Regions from separate parts of the Homo sapiens genome. Here region 2 is linked to region 1. Evidence: fine-mapped expression QTL. A gene starts in region 1. The other region holds a variant in brackets. All regions are shown on one strand. Distances are from middle to middle. Region 1 holds the start of CCDC47 (coiled-coil domain containing 47). Region 2 has its middle 6.4 kb from the start of MAP3K3.

What was found.
Region 2: its variant is fine-mapped to the expression of CCDC47 in atrial appendage (GTEx, PIP 0.99).

Annotation. Positions count from the first base shown.
Region 1 is chr17:63,769,369-63,778,192 of GRCh38, forward strand. CCDC47 (coiled-coil domain containing 47) reads right to left here and starts at 4,229. Exons shown (of 13, transcript NM_020198.3): 1 at 4,044-4,229. It overlaps DDX42 (DEAD-box helicase 42), which reads left to right and starts at 4,802. Exons shown (of 18, transcript NM_203499.3): 1 at 4,802-5,008. RefSeq lists enhancers at 4,104-4,688, 4,401-4,710 and a silencer at 4,841-5,130.
Region 2 is chr17:63,611,643-63,620,466 of GRCh38, forward strand. No RefSeq gene overlaps it. Among named protein-coding and RNA genes, the nearest start is that of MAP3K3, 6.4 kb to the right of the region's middle. The variant C/G (reference allele first, on the strand shown) is at 5,203.

The DNA.
Region 1 (8,824 bases):
TTTGGGAGGCTGAGGTGGGCAGATCACCTGAGGTCAGGAGTTTGAGGCCAGCCTGACCAACATGGTGAAACCTCGTCTCTGCTAAAAATACAAAAATTAGCCGGGCATGGTGACAGGCGCCTGTAATCCCAGCTACTTGGGAGGCTGAGGCAGGAGGATCGCTTGAATCAGGAGGTGGAGGTTGCAGTGAGCCGAGACAGCGCCATTGCAGTCCAGCCTGGGCAACAAGAGTGAAACTCCATCTCAAAAAAAAAAAAAAAGAAAAGAAAAGAAAAGAAAAAGAAAACAAAAAAGTTTAACAGGGATGTCAAATTTTTTGGTTTCCCTGAGGCACAACGGAAGAAGAATAATTGTCTTGGGCCACACATAAAATACACTAACACTAATGATAGCCAATAAGCTAAAAAATATCTCATAATGTTTTAAGAAAGTTTACGAATTTGTGTTAGGCCACATTCAAAGCTGTCCTGGGTCACATGCGGCCTGCAGGCCATGGGTTGGACAAGCTTGGTTTAGAAAAACATACATTTACATACAAATATTAGTTAGCTTGTATGGTAGAATTCTGGATATTTTGTCTTTATTTTTCTTTCTTTTTTTTTTTTTTTTTGAGGCAGAGTCTCACTCTGTAGCCCAGGTTGGAGTGTAGTGGCGTGATCTCGGGTCACTGCAACCTCTGCCTCCTGGGTTCAAGCGATTCTTCTGTCTCAGCCTCCTGAGTAGCTGGGTTATAGGCACTCACCATCATGCCTGGCTAATTTTTTTTGTAGTTTAAGTACAGATGGGGTTTCACCATGTTGGCCAGGTTGGTCTCGAACTCCTGACCTCAGGTGATCCACCTGCCTCGGCCTCCCAAAGTGCTGGGATTACAGGCATTTACAGGCATGAGCCACCGTGCCCGGACTAATTTTTTTTTTTCTGTAGTGTACTTTTGTCACTAGAGAAGAGGCATTGCAGACTGCGGAACAGGTTTGGCATGGAGGCCTGAAATAGCATATTTTAGGAGCCTGGTATGATAGGACATTGGGTTTGTAGACTCAAGTGGGAGAAAGGAGGCTGGAAAGGCCCTCAGGGGCCAGGTCATGATGAAATCATTACTGGCAACTGCAGGGAAGTGATAAGGATGGAAGCCATAATGCAAGCAATTGAGTATTAACGGAAGTGAGAGTATGGCAAAGGGAAATATGTACTACTCTTTCAAGGTGCTCTGAGATGGAGAATATTCTAAATCTCATTTATAGCACTGAAACTTCTTAAAGAAATCAGTTTAATATCGAAGGTTATTGTCGAATGCCTTGCAATCCATGGATGCTCAAGAAATTAAATGCTCTTAAAGGCTGGGCGCAGTGGCTCACACCTGTAATCCCAGCACTTTGGGAGGCCAATACGGGCAGATCAGCGGAGGTCAGGAGTTCGAGAACAGCCTGGTCAACATGGTGAAATCCCGTCTCGACTAAAAATACCAAAAAATTAGCCAGGCATGGTGGCACACACCTGTAATCCCAGCTACTTGGGAGGCTGAGGCAGGAAAATTGCTTAAACTTGGGAGGCGGAGATTGCAGTGAGCCAAGATCATGCCACTGCACTCCAGCCTGGGTGACAGAGCGAGACTGTGTCAAAAAAAAAAAAAAGAAAGAAAGAAAGAAAGGAAGGAAGGAAGGAAGGAAGGAAGGAAGGAAGAAAGAAAGAAAGAAATTAAATGTTCTTAGAATTAAAGTTCATAAAATTTGAAAGGTACAAATGATTTTGAGAAATGCCATAAAGGATAGGCCAACGGTACAGTAGGCCCTACCCATGGGTTCCACATCTGTGGATTCAACCAACCACAGATGGAACAGATTTGGAGGCAAGAACAGTTAAAAAAAAATACAATTAAATTAGGTATTATAAGTAATCTAGAGATAATTATATAGTGTATATACATATACATATATAAGTATATGGTAGGAGGTGCATAGGTTATACGTAAATACTACACCATTTTATATAAGGGACTTGAGTATCCATGGATTTTGGTATTCTCAAGGGGTCCTGGAACCAATCCCCCATACATATCAAGGGAGAACTAAACATTCTTTTTATACTAGTTGATCCTTCAGGTTAGTATCAAGGGACAATCTATGGGAAAGCATGCCACTTTGTCAATGCCAGCCTCAAAGAGGTATGGGATGTGTCTCTAAACATCCCTAGCTTCCTTTAACCATCTTTAGTTACTAATGAGTGTTTTTAAACTCTGGAATGTATATTTTCCACTTCCACTAGGCCTAAGGGTCTTCAGTCCTCTAAATTACTACCTGTTAAAGTTTCTCTTCTAGTTTTTCTAGGCTTTCCCTCTAGTTCTCATGTTGTGATATTTGGTCAAAAGTGGAAGAAATATAGAAAACAGCACATACTTTGGTGAAATTAGACTTGGTTTAAAATGTCAGCTCTAGGCCAGGCGTGGTGGTCCACGTCTGTAATCTCAGCACTTTGGGAGGCCGAGGTGGGTGGATCATTTGAGGTCAGGAGTTCGAGACCAGCTTGGCCAAAATAGTGAAACCCCACCTCTACTAAAAATACAAAAATTAGCCGGGCGTGGTGGCAGGCACCTGTAATCCCAGCTACTCGGGACGCTGAGGCAGGAGAATCGCTTGAACCCGAGAGATGGAGGTTGTAGTGAGCCAAGATTGCGCCACTGCACTCCAGCCTGGGCAACAGGGTGAGACTCTGTCTCAAAAAAATAGATAAATAATAAAATAAAATGTCAGCTCTACCATTTACCAGCAATATGACCTTAGCCTAATTACTTAAAATTCCCTGTTCTCCACATACAAAAAAGGGATACCATTTGCTACTTGCCTCTTAGGGCTGCAGTGGGTATTACGGGAGATATGTACCAAGGGTTTTTTTTTTTTTTTTTTTTTGAGACGGAGTCTGACTCTGTCACCCAGGCTGGAGTGCAGTGGCACGATCTCGGCTCACTGCAAGCTCCGCCTCCCGGGTTCACGCCATTCTTCTGCCTCAGCCTCCCAAGTAGCTGGGACTACAGGCGCTCGCCACCACGCAGGGCTAATTTTTTGTATTTTTAGTAGAGACGGGGTTTCACTGTGTTAGCCAGGATGGTCTCGATCTCCTGACCTCGTGATCCACCCGTCTCGGCCTCCCAAAGTGCTGGGATTACAGACGTGGGCCACCGCGCCCAGCCTCCTTTTCAAATCCTACTCTTAAAACTTTTTTTTCATATAGAAGCAACTAAAAGTTAACACCGGAACAGTCAACTCGATTAACAGCCTGCCAAAAGATCCGATCATTTCAAATTGAATTTCCAATTAGAATATTCACACCATAGAAACACTTCTGAGATAACTCAGCACTATAATGGAGATCCTTCAAGGTTATTTAGGTTACAATCATCCAAGCCATTTTTACCTTGGTTTTCCCTCTTAGAAGTCTCCGCTGCACCTGTCAGTTCTCAAATGCACAAGTCCTTGCCAGACCACCCAGCCTCTATGACTCCTGAAGCAAGCAACACAGGACCAAGGAAAATTCACACAAGCGCTAACAAGTCTGGTTTGATTATTTTCTGCAAGCTCATCCAATAGTTCCTCAGCGACTGAGTCTAGACTTGAGGAAAGAGGACTGAGTGAGGCCATCATTCCTTGTTGTCATTTTAGATTAGGTCTTCCTGACAACGGCCAAAACGAGTATTCTGGAAATCATGCAGACTTTCCTCTGTCTCTTTATATGTGTTGGATACAAACACGTTTCATTTTAGAAACCTCCAGAAGAGACTGGCCACAGAGGTTTTTGCTTCTATTAAACCCCTTTGCCTAGTTTCTCCCCACCCAAGAGAATCAATACATCCTAATGTCATCCTCCGGCACACACTGTACATTTCCTCTAACTCTGCCCTTTTGGCTATCATTTGCTCACAGCTCCGTGGGAAAGTTCCCCCAAACCATTACAATTATCTCAACCGGACCGGGCTACAGGCCAAGCAACTCGGAGTCACCGCTCGGCCTGGCCCGGCCACGCCGACGAGCGCGTCCTGGCCCGCTCCTTACCTGTGGCCGAAGCCGAAACCCGGCCCAGCGCCCTGCGTCCGACACCCCTGCCCGGCCTGCCTCTCGGCCTGGCCGCCGCCTCCGCGATCGCAGCGGTTTTACTGCCCCGGATGCCTCTAGGACGCAGCCAGAACCGTAGCTCAGTCACGCCGCGCCTCTCTTCACGTAGCCTCCGCCGTCCGTTACGTAGAATGCGAGCGGCTCGTCAGCGCCTGCGCGCAGCCTGCGGGGCGGGACGCAACCCCGGGGAAAGCGCGAGACCTCCCTCTCTCCCGCCCGGCTGAGGCGAGGTGGGGCTTTTGGGAAAATTACATAATCCCCGCCCCTGGGCCGGAACTGCCCTCGCCTATCCCAATCCTCCTACCTAGGATTCCGTCAAGTTGACGTCACACGGAACCGGTGCTCCGGAAGCTAAAGGTGGCCATGCTGTGTGGGACCACGTGGCCAGAGGCAAGAGTGTCGCTCTAGTAGTATATGCAACAGTTTAAACTATAGGCATGTTCATGTAAATATGGTTTCTGTCCAACCCGTTTTCTCTTGGGATTTTTGGCTAGCCCCTTGACGCCACTTTTTCTTCATTCGCAGACCCACTTTCTAGATGGGTCATGAACACTGTCCACCCAACTGCAGTTTCCCGTCAGAGTATCTGAGGAGCCTGTGAGGCGTTCTGGAGCTTTAAGGTCAGGCGCCTTCCGGGAGCCGTAGCCCCGGCCCCGCCCTTCTGCCCGCGCGTTCCTCACTGCGCATGTCGCGTTTTTGTTCCCCTCCCCCCTTCAGCAACGGGCCGTGAGGCGGTGGCGGTGGTGGCGGTGGCGGCGGCGGTGGTGGTGGTGGCGGCGGCGGCGGCGAAGGGGGCGGAGAGGAAGGAGCGCGGCGGGACCGGGCCGGGACAGCGCGTACTTTGGGCTCCGGGATTCGCTCCGCGCCCGCGGTTGTAGCAGCTGCCGCTGCAGCCATAGCAGCAGGTTTGTGCGTGGGGTTTCTGGACGCAAGGCCGCCAGTCCTTGGGGGCACTGGAGGCAACTGCTGGGCCTAGCGAGGGCGGAGGAACCGCGGCCTCGCTTAACAAAGAGTCGGCAGAGCCTCGGGGCACCGGCGGCCGGGGTGCCGGGAAGGGGTGGGAGTGGGGGCTGAGGCCTCTAGGGTTCCTTCCTAGCCGCGTCGCCCTCCCACAGCTCCCGCTTCCCTCACAAGTCTTACCGAGGCCCAGTTGGCGGCTTTCCGGAGGCGGCGCCCCCTCGCCTAGGAAAAGGATTTGCAGGGTGCCCGGCTCCAGGGCAGGAATAGCGCGGGGAGAATTCTGACCCAAGGAGGCAGCGCTTGGGAGATGCAGGCCTCCGAATTTGGGGTCCTGAGAGGCAAAAGCTGCCAAATGAGAGGAGTGAAAAGATATAGGCGATGATCTTTGTGCAGCGTTGAGTAGGTCGATTATTAGCATCACTGTAGTCACACAAACTTTTTTGCGGCCTACTTGAGAGCGTATCTGATGTGAATAAATAATTTACATGGAATTGCAAACATATGCATCAAAAACAGGAGAAGCTGTCGAGAGTTTTGGGGAATTACATTCTCATCACTGAGAATTTCCCTCTTGCCCCCACTCCTATAGGCAGTTATCCAATTTCTTGTGGCTTCCCTGTGTTTTCTTTTTGTCAATGATGTTTCTATGTCTGTCCTCTCTCGTATACACACCCAGGACTTCCTCAAGCGCAGGGACTATGTCTTAAGGCGCTTTGCAGAGCCAAGCTCATTTCTGGCACATAAGAGGTGAGCAATGAGTGTTTCGTACAAAAATTAATGTTTATATTTTGACAGCTGGGAAAAGAAAATATATCTTCCTGTACCTGGAAGAAGCATTGTGTAGCCTAATGTGCAATTCGTTCATTCAAGGGGTATTTTTATTGGTGCCTATTCTCTAGCGCCGTTCTAGGTGATAGGGATAGGTGTTAGACCCCTGCCTTTGGGGAACTTAACTTTCTAGTAGCGGGAGGAGAGGCAAACAGATACATATATTATACTGAATGTTAGAAGATGATCAGTATCTTAGGGAAAAGAAAGCTGGAAAGGGGGTTGGGGAGGTGGTGGTGTTGGAATTTGCAATAAAGTGGTCAGGGAAGTCCATACAGACAAGCTGATATTTAAGCGGACTAGAAGGTGGAGTGAGAGCCTACGTTTATCTGGGGAAAGGAACGTTCCAAGCTAGAGAATAACAAACATAAAAGCCTTGAGGAGGACAAAGCTGGCCCGTTAAGAGTGTGAAGACCAACGCGTTTGGAGCACTGTGAGCTGAGGGAGTATTAGGAGATAAGGTCAGGGAAGAATTGGGGGAAGGGAGTGAGCGGAACAACCAAAGCCTTTTAGGCTGTTACTTAGGAAGGATCTGAGGGTTTCGATCAGAGGAATGATAATATCTGATTTATATTGTAACAATTTAATATAAGAGAGGAGTGCAGTTATTTAAATTTGTTTTGTTACATTGATAGTCATATAATCAGCTCTTAGTTGCTTTAAGCTGACAGGAGAAGGGATGCTTCTAAAATAACCATAACCTAGCATTTACTTGTATTTGGTTTAGAAGAATGTGATTACGTTCTTGAGTTTTTATTTAGATTCTCATCAAAGAACTGACCTGTATATAGTGTGTGAGGTACTCTCAAAGTATATGTAGAGTAGATGCTAATCACTGTCACTAGAACTCTTCCTTCCACCTCCAAAAATACAAGTGATAAAGTAATGTGGCTTATATAATCAGTTGTTTTTAGTCCACTATATTTAAAGTCATTTAGATCATATCTTATTTTCCGCCATTGCCGAAAACACAAACTAGCTAAATTGTCTTCCTTTATAAGTGTGTTCCACATTTATTCTCACTTCCTAGCCTTTGCTAGTTCAGTCTTTCTCCCTGGAATGTCTTCGTCTGCACGTCTCTACCCAGCTTTCATCTTTCTGTGCCTAGCCTGGCTTCTGACTCTGTTATGACACTTGCCCTTGCTTGTTAGCTCATGGTGATCTCTGACATCTTCAGTGTTCTTGTGGCGCTTATGTATGAAATACCTGAGTTGAAAGAAGTCTGATAGTCTCAATTTACCGATGAAGAAATTGGTTCTTCAGAAATAATGTAATAATGAAAAACACGATGGTAGCTGACATATTGAACAAGTACATTTTTGTGTATGAACTTAATTTTTCACGCCAACTCTTGAGATAGGTGATAGTCTCATCTTTTTTTTTTTTTTTTGAGATGGTGTCTGGCTGTGTTGCCCAGGCTGGTCTTGAACTCCTGAGCTCAAGTAATCCGCCTGCCTCAGCCTCCCAGAGTGCTGGGATTACAGGCGTGAGCCACCACACACAGCCTCTTACCATTTTTTATAGATGAGGAAACTGAACCCAGAGAAGCTAAATAACTTCCCTGAGGTTCATATCAAGTTAGTAGCAAAGATAGTTTACACATAGCCTGTGCTACTTTACTATTCTGTTAAGATTTCCTAGGAAACCACCGTGTTTTATTTATTTTTTAGAGACTGTCTTGCTGTGTTGCCCAGGTTGGAGTGCAGTGGTCCAGTCAGCTCATTGTAACCTGGAACTCCTGGGTTCAAGCAATCCTCTTGCCTCAGCCTCCTGAGCAGCTAGGACTACAGGCGTGTGCCACCATGCCTGGCTAATTTTTTAAATTTTTTTGTAAAGACAGGGTTTTATTGTGTTGCCCAGGCTGGTCTCAAACTCGTGGCCTTAAGTGATCCTCCCACCTTGGCCTCCCAAAGGGCGAGGATTACAGGTGTGAGCCACCTTGCCCAGCCAGCCATAGGATTTAGTGCCTAGAACCATACCAAATAGGACTTGATGCCATCTTGACTGTTTCTCTTCAGCCTAGTTGTAGATCTCCTTTAGTCTTTTACATATTGAATAAATGAGTATCTAATATTGAAAACATGCTATAAGAGAAAAGTGAATAAGCCTGTTTCTTCAGCCATGAATCCTATAATACGGAGTTGGACTGGAAAGGGAGTTTGAGGAAGGAGATGCCATTTCTTTTTCTTTCTTTTTTTTTTTTTTTGAGACGGAGTCTCACTCTGTCGCCCAGGCTGGAGTGCAGTGGCGCGATCTTGGCTCACTGCAAGCTCCGTCTCCCGGGTTCAAGTGATTCTCCTGCCTCAGCCTCCGGAGTAGCTGGGACTACAGGTGCCCACCACCACGCCTGGCTAATTTTTTTGTATCTTTAATAGAGATGGGGTTTCAGCATGTTAGCCAGGATTGTCTCGATCTCCTGACTTCGTGATCCACCCGTCTCGGCCTCCCAAAGTGCTGAGATTACAGGCGTGAGCCACCGTGCCCAGCCAGGAGATGCCATTTCTTTGGGGATATCATATTCATGTCTTTAGGAGTTGGTATTTGAGATATGCTTTGAAGGATAGGACTTTGGTAGGTACTCACAGTTTATAGGAAAGAGATTTGATGTGAAGGGGATCCAGTTAGAGGGAAGAGGATTCACTAGAGTGCTTGTTTTCCTGGAAAACTGAGTACGTGTGGAGAGACCCTGGGAAATATGAATGGTAAAGTAGTTTGATGCCACAATGGAGGGTCTCATTCCAGCATGATTAACTGTGGAGAGCTATGGAATTGAGGAGAGTGACATAATCAGAAATGTGTGTTCTGGAAGAACCTGGAAAGGGTTTTCGATAAGCATCTGAATACTGACCTCCCTTCTGTGAGACTTTTTCTGGTTCCACGGTATTAACACACACTATGCTACTCTACCAAAGGAGGTAAAACTTGCTTTTCTC
Region 2 (8,824 bases), 160 kb before region 1:
TTGGTACCTTTTGCTCCTAATAGTCACATCTGTGTTTAGAAGGGCCAGGAACTCCCACCTCCTGCGTCAGAGCCTGTCAAGCATGTCAGGCCTAGAGTGGCTTTCTGATCCCTGTTATACACCTATTTATAAGTTATCTAAGCTAATTCTGAGCTCAGAGTAATTTTCCTGAAGGAGCTTCAGGTAAATAAGGATGACAAAGAACTAAAACCAAATTTACTGTAAATGATAACTTCAGCTTCTAAGAAAAGAATTACTGACTCCACACTGATGTCAATAGCTGGAGAGCAAGGGCTACGAGGAAGAAAACCAGTGAAATAATCCATGGTCATGCCACTTGCCCAAATATCTGAATTGCTTATCATTAAAAAAGAGCAAATTTACGTTTATATGTGGCTTCATAATTTGTAAGATACGTTTACATGTTATTTATTTGATTTTCCCAACAAACCTATAAAACACTTTGGCCAAGTATTTTATGCACAAATGATCTCATACCAAGCAGGAAAGAACAGGTCTTACACTGATAGACCTTGGTGTTTATAAAATAGCTCTGTTTTGGAAATTAATTTGGAGGAATCTTATTTATAATCTGAGAAATCTGTACTAAGGGAGTCTGCTCTTAAAGGGAACATGGCTAGTCATGTGAATAGATCTCTAATGTAGCATATAGAATCTTTATTAATATGGATTGTTGCATAACCAATTATCTTACATCAAGACATGCTTACTGTAAGGCACAGTAAAGGCTCCTGTGATGATGGCTCTGCACTGACCCCTAGTGGTGCCCTGCAGTCTCTCTCCTGCAGTTAATAGGAAAGGCAGAAATGAACCCTTCTTGAATTTGTTCTGCTGTCTCTAGATCTGGAAAAGAGACCCTGAGCTATTCAAATAAAGATGGTCACGGCCGGGTGCGGTGGCTCCCGCTTGTAATCCCAGCACTTTGGGAAGCCGAGGCGGGTGGATTACCTGAGGTCAGGAATTCGAGACTAGCCTGGCCAACATGGTGAAACCCCGTCTCTACTAAAAATACAAAAATTAGCCAGGCATGGTGGCAGGCGCCTGTAGTCCCAGCTACTCAGGAGGCTGAGGCAGGAGAATCACTTGAACCCGGGAGGTGGAGGTTGCAGTGAGCCGAGATCACACCATTGCACTCCAGCCTGGGGCACAAGAGCGAGACTCCGTCTCAAAAAAAAAACATTAAAGATGGTTACATCCATATGCCAAGGTATTATGTTGCCACTAAAAATTATTTTTTAAAGAATCTTTTGTCAGAGAAAATGTTTAGAATATAACATTAAGTGGGAAAAAAGATACAAAACTACATGTATAGTGTGGTCCAAATTTTGAAATAGATATGTATATATTTATTTAACATATTATATATATGAACTTTTTAAAAAAGACTAGAAGGAAATGTACTAAAATATCAAAACAGGTTATCTCAGGGTAGTGATGTTATTACTGAGCTTTATATTCTGTAATCATGTTTTCCTTTTTTCTTTCTTTCTTTTCTTTTCTTAAGAGATGGTGTCTTCCCGGCCGGGCGCGGTGGCTCACGCCTGTAATCCCAGCACTTTGGGAGGCCGATGTGTGTGGATCATAAGGTCAGGAGTTCGAGACCAGCCTGGCCAATGTGGTGAAACCCCGTCTCTACTAAAAATATAAAAATTGGCTGGGCGTGGTGGCGGGCGCCTGTAATCCCAGCTACTTGGGAAGCTGAGGCAGGAGAGTCATTTGAACCCAGGAGGCGGAAGTTGCAGTGAGCCAAGATCGCACCACTGCACTCCAGCCTGGGCGACAGAGCAAGACTCCGTCTCACCGAAAAAAGAAAAAAAAGAGAGAGAGAGAGATGGGGTCTTCCTGTGTAAGGCTGGTTTTGAATTCCTGGCTCCTAGGGATCCTCTTGCCTCAGCCTCCCAAAGTGCTGGGATTATAGGTGTGAGCCACTGTGCCCAGCCCCCATGTTTTACTTTTATCAGGTGACATAATTAAAAAAAAACCAAAAGCTAGTCTCACAGCATCTGAGAGTCTGGGAGTCAGATGCATGTTAAAGTCAGAGGAATGAGGTCCAGTGCTGGCTTGGCTTGCTTTGCCTTATCTTTGGTTATTGTCTTAGCAACATAAAATTATTCAAGGTCTTGAAGCCACCTTGGGCTTACCTTCAAGTGTCCTTTTAGTGGGACAGAAGTATCTGTGATAGGCTCTGTTCACAGTCTTGACTGTTATAAGAAGCACTCTTGTGCGTAGCCACCTCCCCTCTGCTAGAGGCCCTGGCTGAATCCAAGAGGAACAGCAAAGGCTGTGCCTCCAACCAACTGTGGAAATTCAGCCATGTGGTTGAGTTACTTTTTTTTCTCTGAAACTTATAGCAGTCAATAAATTTTCAAACTCGAAGAGCCCCCAATTCCCAGACTTATTTGAATCCCCAAAGACACTTCTGGAGACATTCTCTTCACAGAAAATAAGTCTGGCAAAAGGGAATGCGATGATAGATCCACAATACTCTTTTTCTTTTCCTTTTCCTTTCCTTTCTTTCTTTCTTTTCTTTTCTTTTTTTTGTGTGTGTGTGTGTGTAACAGGGTCTTTGTCAGCCAAGCTGGAGTGCAGTGGCACAACCATCGCTCACTGCAGCCTCAACCTCTCAGGCTCAAGCAATCCTTCTGCTTCAGCCTCCTTGCATGCCACCATGCCCGGTTATTTTATGTTTTGAAGAGATGGGGTATTGCTATGTTGACAGGGCTGGTCTTGAACTCCTGGGCTCAAGTGATCCTCCCATCTTGGCCTCCTGAAGTGCTGGGATTACAGGTATGAGCCATCAGCCTGGTGCCACACTACTCTTAACTGAAATTATTCTATGTCCAGCCAGTGAACAGGATAGCATTTTTACTTCTTTGTTCTTTTTATTTTTTGTGTATGCCCAAAAGGTAACATTTATTGTCTTTAAAAAGGCAAATCTTACATAAATAAATAACAACAACAACAACAACAAAATTCCCATTTAATTCTACCTCCTAAGATACAACCACCATTAACGATTTATATTTTTTCACTCTTTGGAGCCAGTCTGCTAGGGACCAAATTCTAGCTCTGCCAACAGCTAGCAACCTTGGACAAGAACTTAACCTCTTTGTACATGCTTCTTTACCTGTAAAATGGGGGTAATGATAGTACCGATTACATGCGGCTGTTTTGAGAATTAAGTTAATATATGTTAAGCACTTGAAACAGCACCTGGCAATAGTTAAGTGTTCAATAAATGTTGGCCTTTTTCTAAGTGTGAATGAGCATTTTTTTTTTCATTAAAAAATTTTTTTGGCCAGGCATGGTGGCTAATGCCTGCAATCCTAGCACTTTGGGAGGCCGAGGCAGGTGGATTGCCTGAGCTCAGGAGTTCAAGACCACCCTAGGGAAAACATGGTGAAACACAACATCTACTAAAATACAAAAATTAGCTGGGCTGGGTGGTGCTTGCCTGTAATCCCAGCTACTCGGGAGGCTGAGGCAGGAGAATTGCTTGAACCCAGGAGGCAGAGGTTGCAGTGAGATTGCACCACTGCACTCCAGCCTGGGCCACAGAGCAAGACTCTGTCTCAAAAAAAAAAAAATTTTTTTTTAATTGATATGGGATCTTGCCATGTTGCCCAGGCCAGTCTTGAACTCCTGGGCTCAAGTGATCCTCCCAGCTTGACCTCCCAAAATGCTGGGATTATAGGTGTGAGCCACCTTGCCTGGCCAGCTTCTTTTTTTTTTTTTTTTAAATAGACATGGAGTCTCAGTATGTTGGACAGGCATATCAGGGTCTTGATACGTAGTTTTGAACTCATGGCCTGAAGCAATTCTGCCTCAGCCTCCCAAAGTGTTGAGATTACAGGCATAAGCCACCACACCTGGCCTGAATGAGCATTTTTTAAAACTGAAAAGTGATCATGCTATATACTTTGCTTTAACCTTTTTTTTTTCACTTCACAATACATCCTGGTTACCTTTTAGTATTAGTATGGAGAAGTCTCTTCATTCTTTTTAATAGCTACATAACTTTTTTGGTATTAACGTGTCATAATTTAACCAGTCTCCTATCAATGGGCATTTGGATTGTCTGTTTTAAAAAAGATGCTAGGGCCGGGCATGGTGGCTCACACTTGTAATCCCAGCACTTCAAGAGGCTGAGGCGGGCAGATAGCTTGAGCCGAAAGAGTTCAAGACCAGCCTGGGCAACATGGCAAAACCCTGTCTCTACAAAACATACAAAAGTTAGCAGGGCATGGTGGTGTGCACCTGTAGTCCCAGCTACTTGAGAGGCTGGGGTGGAAAGATTGAGCCCAGGAGGTCAAGGCTTCAGTGAGCTATGATTACACCACTTCACTCCAGCCTGGGTGATGGAGTAAGACTCTGTCTTCAAAAATAAAATGAAAATAAAAAGTCAGGTGTGGTGCCATGAGCCTGTAGTATCAGCTACTGAGGAGACTGAGACAGGAGGATCCCTTGAACCTGGGAGGTTGAGCTTGTGGTAAGCTATGACTGTGCCACTGTACTCCAGTCTGGAGGACAGCAAGACCTTGTCTCAAAAAAGAATTTTCGGCTGGGTACAGTGGCTCATGCCTGTAATCCCAGCACTTTGGGCGGCCAAGGTGAGCGGATCATGAGGTCAGGAGATTGAGACCATCCTTGCTAACACGGTGAAATCCCGTCTCTACTAAAAATACAAAAAGTTAGCCAAGCATGGTGGCAGGCGCCTGTAGTCCCAGCTACTTGGGAGGCTGAGGCAGGAGAATGGTGTGAACCCGGGAGGCAGAGCTTGCAGTGAGCCGAGATCACGCCACTGCACTCCAGCCTGGGTGACAGAGCGAGACTCCGTCTCAAAAAAAAAAAAAAAAAGAAGATAAAATACTGCATATACCTAAAAGGGAACATTATGGAAATTACATTCAGTTACTAACATCTCCATTTGAGGTTCACTTACTCATTTGACAAATATTTGTTTTTTAATGTGCTATGAAAGATGAGAGGCATGCTGATTTGAAAGCAGCTTCTGTCTTTATGCTTAATTTGGTTGTTTTGTTTTGCTTTGTTTTGCTTTGTTTTGTTTTGTTTGAGGGTCTGGCCCTGTCATCTAGGCTGGAGTGCAGTGATAGGATCATAGCTCACTGTAGCCTTACCTCCTGAGCTCAAGCAGTTCTCCAACCTCAGCTTCTTGAGTAG[C/G]TAGGACTACAGGCACACGCCACCATACCTGGATAATTTTAAATTTTTTTTGTAGAGACGAGGTCTAACTATGTTTCCCAGACTGGTCTCAAACTCCTGGCGTCAAGCAATCCTCCCTCATTAGCCTCCTAAAATGTTAGGATTATAGACATATGAGCCACCACACCTGGCCTTTTTATACATACTTGGTTAAAGACAATTATTAGCAGGACACATGCTTTGATGAAGAAAGTACCCAGTGCTCTGACAGCATGTCTGAGGGCCTTAACCCGGACTTGGAGTTGTCTGTCTGAGAAGGCTTCCTGGAGAATGCTGTATAGGCTTAGCTCTTCCCTGAAAGAATGGAGGTGGGGGCTGGGCGTGGTGGCTCATGCCTGTAATCCCAGCACTTTGGGAGGCCGAGGCGGCAGATCACGAGGTCAGGAGATCGAGACCATCCTGGCTAACGCGGTGAAACCCCGTCTCTACTAAAAAAAAAATACAAAAAATTAGCCAGGCGTGGTGGCGGGCACCTGTAGTCCCAGCTACTCGGGAGGCTGAGGCAGGAGAATGGCATGAACCCGGCAGGCGGAGCTTGCGTCACTGCACTCCAGCCTGGGCGAGAGAGCAAGACTCCGTCTCAAAAAAAAAAAAAAAAAAAAAAAAAAAGAATGGAGGTGGAAGCAGAAGCGAAGAGGATTTCATGCAGAGAACATAGCACACGCAGAGGTATAGAAGCAAGAGAAATTCACATTTGAGGAATTGCTGGTGGTTCTATGTGGCTGGGGCATAGAATTTGAATAATGGGGTTAACTATTATAGTTAAGGTGGAAATAGAAGGACGTGTGGCTGAAGAAGAAGGTATGGGTTGGGTCCTGAAGGACCTTCTTAACTACATTCACATATATGACTTATCCTAAGGGTGATGGGAAACTTTTTAGGGAGGGTATGGCAGAATCAGGTGTCCATTTCAGAAAGATCAATCTGTGATGTGAATATATGTTGAGAGGCTGTTACGCTTAAGTCATGCAGGTAAGAGATTTTGGTGGTTTGAGCTAGGGTGGTAAAATGGGATGGGAGAGGGATGGACAGATTGGAGACTTGTTCAAGACTGGCTGTGGGGGAAAGAAATGGAGAGAAAGAGCTATCTGATCATTCGAAGGTATCCAACTTGGGAAACTGGAGAGGGACAGAGAAAATACAGAACTATGGGGGAAAATGGTTTCAGTTTGGACCCAAAATTGGAGGTTCCTGTGGGACACCCATGTCTGTGGAGTTCAGAAGAAAGACATCCCTGAGCTAGAGACACAGTTGAGATTCTGGAATCCTCAGCGCATATGGTAACTGCAGTATGGGAATGTTTGAGATGGCTGGTTGAGACACCGACAGTGCAAATGAAGCCACAAAGAAGGCAGTTGTAAGAAAGGTAGAAGGTAAATCAGAAGGTTGTTTTCAGCTAAAGACTCAGGTAGATGTACTGCGGTTCTCCATGTGTGAGGCACTATTCTAAGTGCTGGTGATAGAGCAGTAAGCAGGACAAAATTCCTGCTCCTGCATACCTTATGTTTGTGGTAGTTGGAGTAGAGCAAACAAATAAATATATAATTTTAGCCACTGAGAAAAAAAAACAAGGAAAAAATATACAAATACAGAATGATGGAAGGGAGGGGTCATTTTGGATGGGGTGATAAGAAATGACTTAAAAGCAGACGTTTGAGCAGAGACTTGAATAAACTGCAGAAATGAGAACATCTTGGCTTGGTAGTTTCAAAGAATGGAAAGAAGGCCAGAGTAGCTAGAGGACAGTGATGGAGGGACAGGATGGAGGGGCCAGCTCCTATTGGGCTTGGCAGGTCATGACAAAGAATTGGGGTTTTATTCTGAGTGTGATGGGAGGGAAGCCATTGGAGGGCTGACAGTGGGCAGGGGGTAGGGTGGCGTGATCTGAATTACATTTTACAGGGATCACTCTGGTTGCTATTGGGGAATCATTTGTTGGGCTGCCACAGAGGAAACAATGGAGGCCAGATAGGAGTCTGGGGCAGTCATTCAGGAGAGTAGGTGGTGGCTTGGATAAGGGGGGTGGGATGAGAAGTGGTTGGATTCAGGTGTGTGTGTGTGTGTGTGTGTGTGTGTGTGTGTGTGTGTATTTTTATTGTATTTTTTTTGGAGACAGGGTTTCACTCTATTGCTCAGGCTGGAGTGCAGTGGCACAATCTCGGCTCACTGCAACCTCCGCCTTCTAGGTTCAAGCGATTCTCCTGCCTCAGCCTCCAAGTAGCTAGGATTACAGGCCACCACACCTGGCTAATTTTTATATTTTTAATAGAGATGGGGTTTCACCATATTGGCCAAGCTGGTTTCGAACTCCTGACCTCAGGTGATCCACCTGCCCTGGCCTCCCAAAGCGCTGGGATTACAGGTGTGAGCCACTGCGTCCGACCTGATTCAGATACATTTTGAAGTGGGAGCTGAAAAGATTTGCTGCATGTTTGGATATATGGGTGTCAGGGAGAGAGAATAATCAAGGAACACTCCTAGGTTTGTACAGAGGGTCTCTGACTTACTATGGTTCGGCTTATACCTTTTTTTTTTTTTTTTTTTTTTGAGATGGAGTTTTGCTTTTGTTGCCCAGGCTGGAGTGCAATGGCATGATCTTGGCTCACTGCAACCTCTGTCTCCCGGATTCAAGCAATTGTCCTGCCTCAGCCTCCCAAGTAGCTGGGATTACAGGTGTGCGCTACCACGCCCAGCTAATTTTTTATTTTTAGTAGAGATAGGGTTTTACCATGTTGGTCAGGCTGGTCTCGAACTCCTGACCTCAAGTGATCCACCCGCCTCAGCCTCCCAAAGTGCTGGGATTACAGGTGTGAGCCACTGTGCCCCGGCCTCAGCTTATGATTTTTGGCGTTATGATGGTTCAAAAGCAACACACAATTCAGTAGAAACTGTGCTTTGAGTACAACCATTCTGTTTTTCATTTTCAGTACAGTATTTGGTAAATTACATGAGCTATTCAAAACTTTCTTATAAAATAGGCTTTGTGTTAGATAATTTTGTCCAACTGTAGGCTAACTTAAGTGTTCGAGCACGCTTAAGATAGGCTTGGCTAAGCTATGATGTTCAGTAGGTCAGGTGTATTAAATGCATTTTCTACTTAACGATTGTTCATCTGATGGTTTATCTGGACATGGCCCCATGGTAAGTCGAGCAGCATCTGTGCTTTAGCAATTGGGAAAACAGAAAGGAGCATGGCAGCTCACACCTGTAATTCCAGCAATTTGGGAAGTTGAGGTGGGAGGATTGCTTGAGCCCAGGAGTTTGAGACCAGTTTGGGCAAAATGGTGGGACACCCCCAACTCTACAGAAAATTTTTTTTACAAAGGCTCTACTCTACCTGACAAAATCTTATTCCTTAGTATTTAATTTCTCTTCTTAGGGAGAATTTAAATTTAATTAAGTAATTTAAATTAAAATTTTTTCCTGGCAGGGGTGGATAATGAAAAAAAGGTTGAGAAACACTGGCCTAGTGCAAGAACATGGCCTTTGGGAGTCACACAGGCTTGGTATGAATCCTGGCTCCACTACTTGGACACAGTGCTTAACCTCTCTAAGCTTCACTTTCATCATTTAAATGCCCACA